2 separate regions of the Homo sapiens genome follow, and region 1 is linked to region 2. Evidence: fine-mapped expression QTL. A gene starts in region 2. The other region holds a variant in brackets. All regions are shown on one strand. Distances are from middle to middle. Region 1 overlaps ACACB (acetyl-CoA carboxylase beta). Region 2 holds the start of ACACB (acetyl-CoA carboxylase beta).

Region 1 (2,914 bases), 43 kb before region 2:
AAACCATTCTTGGCCACCATGTTGATTTCGAAACTGGTGACAGAGCCCCTCCATCAGGCAGGCCACAAGCCCATTACCGCAGGCTAGGCAAGCGAACACACAAAGCTGCCGGACTGGCCTTGTTTCAGGCCCAATCTCCAGGCAAGTGGCTATTTTAATTCTTTTTGATAAAGCTGGAAGCCAACCAACATTGGCTCTAGAGAGCTGACCTTCGGCCAGCATTTGCTTCCACTGAAGGAGGATCATCCTAAGTGCCATTGTCCAGTGAGAAGCCCTGTCCTTATACAGCACGGCAAGGGTGAGAGCTGAAATGTTTCAAGGTGACTTTGGAAATGACTTCAGGTACAATCAACAGCAGAGGTGTCAGCCAAACACCAAATGCAGTCAGCTGCCGGAGCACAAGACCAGGCAGAATAGTATCAGGAATGGAGGAAATAAACATTCTCGGCTGCCCACTATGGACTGGGCACAGGGGGCCTCTCAGTGAATCTCCACAGCCCTGTATGGAGGAGTCTGTCATCTCCAGGTTCACGATGAGGAAACCGAGGTTCAGAGAGGACCATTTACCTCCAGTTTCACAGCTGGCAAGTGGCAGAGCCCCGTTTCAAATCCAACTCTAGCTGACCTCAGAATCTAACTTCTAGGCAGAAAGACAATCTGAGATAAATGGAAGCCCCTCTATTAACTGGACTTTTAAAACATGCATTACACATATGGCCTCTTATATTCCTCTCAAATAAGAGACAAACATGTATAATGCTGAGGTTTTTTGTTTGGTTGGTTGGTTTTTTTTTTTTTTTTGAGACAGAGTCTAGCTCTGTCACCCAGGCTGGAGTGAAGTGGCACCATCTCGGCTCACTGCAACCTCTGCCTCCCAGATTCAAGCGATTCTCCTGTCTCAGCCTCCCGAGTAGCTGGGACTATAGGTGCCTGCCACCATGCCTGGCTAATTTTTGTATTTTTAGTAGAAATGGGGTTTCACTATGTTGGCCAGGCTGGTCTCGAACTCCTGACCTCAGGTGATCTGCCCACCTTGGCCTCCCAAAGTGCTGGGATTACAGGGGTGAGCCACCGCGCCCAGCCCTGAGTGCTTAACTGGGGGAAATTTTGCTCCCCGGGGAGCAATACCTGGAGACATCTTTGATTGTCACAACTTGGGGGATGCGCTACTGGCATCTAGTGGGTGGAGACCAGGGATGCTGCTCAACACCCTGCAATGCACAGGACAGCCCCACAAAGAACTGGACAGCCCCAAGTGTCAACAGAGCCGCAGTTTAGAAACTCTGGTAGACTGCGGCCATCCTCCTAGGCTTTGAAGCCAGAATCTACCGCTTATAACCTGTGTAATCCTGGGAAAGTTACTTCAATACTCCCTGCCTCAGTTTCCTCACATGATGGAATTAACAGTTTATCCCTGGACCTAGCCAAAGTAAACAGCTTGCAACACTTTAGCTACCATGTACGTCTGCAGGATAGCATTACAGGAGCCCAGGCTGGGCCATTAGGCTAGGGCCCCGGCATTAATCAGACCTTCAATT[T/C]CTTCCCTCTCTTTTCTTCTATAAAATAGAGATGGTAACGGCTACCCGCACTGCTAAGAGCTGATTCTGAGCCAGGCAATTCTGTAATTACAACTACTTCCAAACAAGAAAGCAAGAAAGAACACTGTGTAGCCCAGTAAAGGTTGATATCGTTCAAACAGCACAAAACCACGCTCTCCAGAAATGGACCCTTGGAAATTTCTCAAGCCACCTGCCCCATCAGTACCCCCTGGGATGACTACCTTGGCTAGGCCAGGGGTGAGTGGGCAAACTAGGACCCATGGGTCAAATCCACTCGGCCACCTGTTTTTGTATCTCCCACAGGCTAAGAGCGGTTTTAACTTTTTAGATTGTTTTTTGTTTTGTTTCGTTTGTTTCGAAAGGGAGTCTTGCTCTGTCGCCCAGGCTGGAGTGCAGCGGTGTGATCTCAGCTCACTGCTACCTCCACCTCTCAGGTTCAAGTGATTCTCCTGCCTCAGCCTCCCGAGTAGCTGGGACTACAGATGTGTGCTACCACGCTCTGCTAATTTTTGTATTTTTATTAGAGACAGGGTTTTACCATGTTGGCCAGGCTGGTCTTGAACTCCTGACCTCAGGGCGATCTGCCCACCTTGGCCTCCCAAAGTGCTGGGACCACAAGTGTGAGCCACCGCACCCAGCCTTATTTGTTTTTTATAGAGACAGGGTCTCCCTCTGTTGCCAGGACTACAGTGCAGTGGTGCAAAAATAGTTCACTGCAGCCTCAAACTCCTGGGCTCAAGTGATCCTCCCACCTCAGCCTCCTGAGTAGCTGGGACTGCAGGTGTGCACCACCATGCCCAACTAATTGGTTTATTTTTGTAGAGACGGGGTTTCATCATGTTGCCCAGACTGGTCTCAAACTCCTCAAGCAACCCTCCTGTCTTGGTCTTCTAAAGTGCTGGGACTATAGACATAAGCCACCATGCCCAGCCAACATTTTTAAGTCATCGAAAAAAAAAAAAAAATCAAAAGAATCCTGTTTTGTGACACATAAAAATTATATGAACTTTGAATTTCCCCATCTATAAATAATGTCTGATTGAAACACAGCCAGGCCTGTTCAATTACATAACTATGGCTTCTGGTGCAGGAAACAGCAGAGTTGAGTAGTTACAACAGAGACCACATGGCCACAAAGCCAAAAATATTTACTGTCTGGCCGTTTATAATAGCAGTCTGCTGACCCCAAGCTAGGCACGAGTTTTCAACCCTGACATGAAAAACTTTATAAGATTCTGATGTCGGGGTCCCATCAGCATGTCTAGGGGGTAGAGGTGGGGTCCCCGGCATCCAGATTTTTCAAAAATCTCCCCACCAGGAAATTCTAATGTGTAGCCAAGAGTGAAAACCCCTGA
Region 2 (2,914 bases):
CTGTCTCTACTAAAAATACAAAAAAAATTAGCCGGGCGTGGTAGTGGGTGCCTGTAGTCCCAGCTACTTGGGAGGCTGAGGCAGGAGAATGGCGTGAACCCAGGAGGCGGAGCTTGCAGTGAGCACTCCATCTCAAATAATAATGATAATAATAATATCTTCACCTTTCAGTTTTTAAATTGCAAGTCCCATGTCCCGGGAATTCCCCGGTCCTGGGCAAAGTGGGATGGTTGGTCACCCAACCTATATGGATGCCCATTGATATTAAAAAATAAAAGTAATCACAATAGACATGAGGGAGAGAGTTGTGTACAGTGTGAGTGTACAGAATAAAAGGTCTGGGGGGTTTATACCAAAATGTGCACAGTGGCTACCTGGAGGAGGAGGGTTAGACAGGAATAACAGCAAGGAGACTTTTGCACGGTGCTGAGTGACTTTTTAACTTGCATATTATTTTGGAATGCATTTTTTCAACATTGAAAGAAAGTCATGTCTTCCTAGAAATATAGGATATAGGACCACTACAAACGCTTTACTCTTAGTCTCCTTTTTTTCTTTTTCTTTTCTTTTTTTTTTTTTTTGAGACAGAGTCTTGCTCTGTCAGTCAGGCTGGAATGCAGTGGCGCAATTTTAGCTCACTGCAACCCCCACCTCCTGGGTTCAAGCGATTCTCCTGCCTCAGCCTCCCAAGTAGCTGGGATTACAGGTGCCCATCACCACATCTGGCTAATTTTTATGTGTTTAGTACAGATGGGGTTTCGCCATGTTGGCCAGGCTGGTCTCGAACTCCTGACCTCAAGTGATCCACCTGCCTCTGCCTCCCAAGGTGCTGGGTGGCATGAGCCACCGTGCCCAGCCTTAGTCTGCTTTAAAAAAAAAAAAAAAAAAAAAAAGAACAACCATTTGAGGAAACAGAAACAGAATACTATTCCTTAAGACAGTAGCTTTGGAGGCAAAAAACAGAATTGTTTATAAAACGTTGTGGAACTTATATGGGAGCATGTCCAGGGATCCACACCACCATTTATAGAAGCAAAGAAAGGCCCTTCTCTTTCATCTGCGTTACATTTCGAGCTCTTCTGATTAGCTTCCTTCAAACATGACGGGAGTCGTTTTTCCCCGGGGACCCCAAGTGCATGCCTTCAGACAGGGTCTGCTCTCACTATACATTGGGTTCGAATTTACCTGGACGTTGGCAGAATGGTCCGGACCCCGGGGAGGGGCGAGCTGACTTACCACTTTATTCCTGCCGCTTTTCTCTTGCCATGTCCTCCCCACCGTGCATTCAGGGTTACATTTTCCAGGTTCCTTGTTTGCTGAGGGCCTGAATCTAAGCCTGCTAGCTGCTTACTCTGGGGACTGCAAATGTCACTTTTAGATTAATCAGCCCCTGCTGTTTAAAAATATCCCTGGAGCACTTAACCTTCAAAGCAGCAACAACCCGGGGCAAAGATGAGAAAGATCCCACGTCAAACCACTTGTGCAGCCCTGGCTACTCCTGGGAGAGTTCTGCTATCTGCCTTTTAATCCCATAACTCGCTTTATTTCATAATTCTTAGCTGTTGAAGCCATGAGGCATCTAAAGTCCATGTTGTCGTAAGCAGTAGGCAGAAAGTCATCTGGGCCCTCCTGTGACATGCTGAAAATTAACTGCCTACAGGTGTTGGTCATTTGAGAAACAAGCCCCCATTGAAAACCGTGAATGGGAAGGTGATCGCTATCAGGTCACCTGGCTTCTCTCCCCTGAAAAGATTTGGCGAAACCCTCTCAAATCACGCCACTTAATGGAATGTTTCCAATTTCTTGTGACTTGGGGATAAAAGAAAAAAACAGCTCCATTGCCACATTCTCATTCAGGGTTGACTGGCTCTTGCTAGGGTTGAGCACAGAAGAGGAAATTCAGCACACGCTGCAGTTACATAGTGTTCTGCAACGTGGGGAGGGCTGGCATGTGGGACAAAGGTCGCCTCCAAGGCCCAGCTGGAGAAGCCCAGCCAACTAGGCAGCAGGAAAGTGGAGACCACATAGGAGCACATTGTGCTCAGGCAACAGGGAAGGTGGAACCCACTTCCTGCCAACAATGATGGCCTTACTAAACAGCAAGTGGAGAAACTGGCGAGAGCGCTGAGCACGGGATCTGTGCAAAATGGTTTAAATGGAAATTGCTGCTGGGGCTGGTGCAGCCTGTTCACAGCTACTTTGTTTCTGGGCTTATTTTGCAATAAGGAACAGTCATTGAATATTGGACTTCTTGGGATTTTCTCCACTGGACTTGGAAGCATGTGCTCTGGAAACCTCAGCATTATCAGCTGTAACCCCACAGCACCAGGTACATGTTACAGGAACCGGGGTGAAGGAATGCAGGTCAAATGCCTGCACAATGCCCGGCCCGAGTCATATGTTCTCTAGCCACAGTAGCCCTTGTGATGGCTCTTAGTCTATTTATTAAGACAATAAAAGAGGTGACTCTCAAACAAACCTATGTTTCCAGGGAGAGCCATCTGTGATTCAAGGACATTTTTATAAAATTCCATTGAAAAAAATTCTTAGGCTTCTAACTTCATGAAAAAAAAATTCTTTCCCAGTGATTCCAAATAATCATGATCTAGGCAGGGTGTTGACAGTGGCAGGACTATTAGGCTTTGAAATCAAGCTGATGTGGGTTTGAATCCTCCCTCCATTAGCCATGACTTTGAGCAAATGGCTGAGCTTCAGTGTCCTCATCAACTACTTCACCATATGGGTGAGAAAATGAAATGATTTATATTGAGTTTCTGGCACAGGGGCTTGCTCATGACAAGCACTTAATATCTTTCTAATGAAATTCATTACTTGCAAAAAGACTAGACATACCCACACATACAGGTGAAGAACTCTGCAGTGATTCAGTTCTCCCTAGACACTATCTCTTTAA

What was found.
Region 1: its variant is fine-mapped to the expression of ACACB in whole blood (TOPMed, PIP 0.99).

Annotation. Positions count from the first base shown.
Region 1 is chr12:109,157,977-109,160,890 of GRCh38, reverse strand. All of the region lies in intron 2 of ACACB (acetyl-CoA carboxylase beta), which reads right to left. Among named protein-coding and RNA genes, the nearest start is that of ACACB, 43 kb to the right of the region's middle. The variant T/C (reference allele first, on the strand shown) is at 1,539.
Region 2 is chr12:109,115,027-109,117,940 of GRCh38, reverse strand. It overlaps ACACB (acetyl-CoA carboxylase beta), which reads right to left and starts at 1,354. Exons shown (of 53, transcript NM_001093.4): 1 at 1,237-1,354.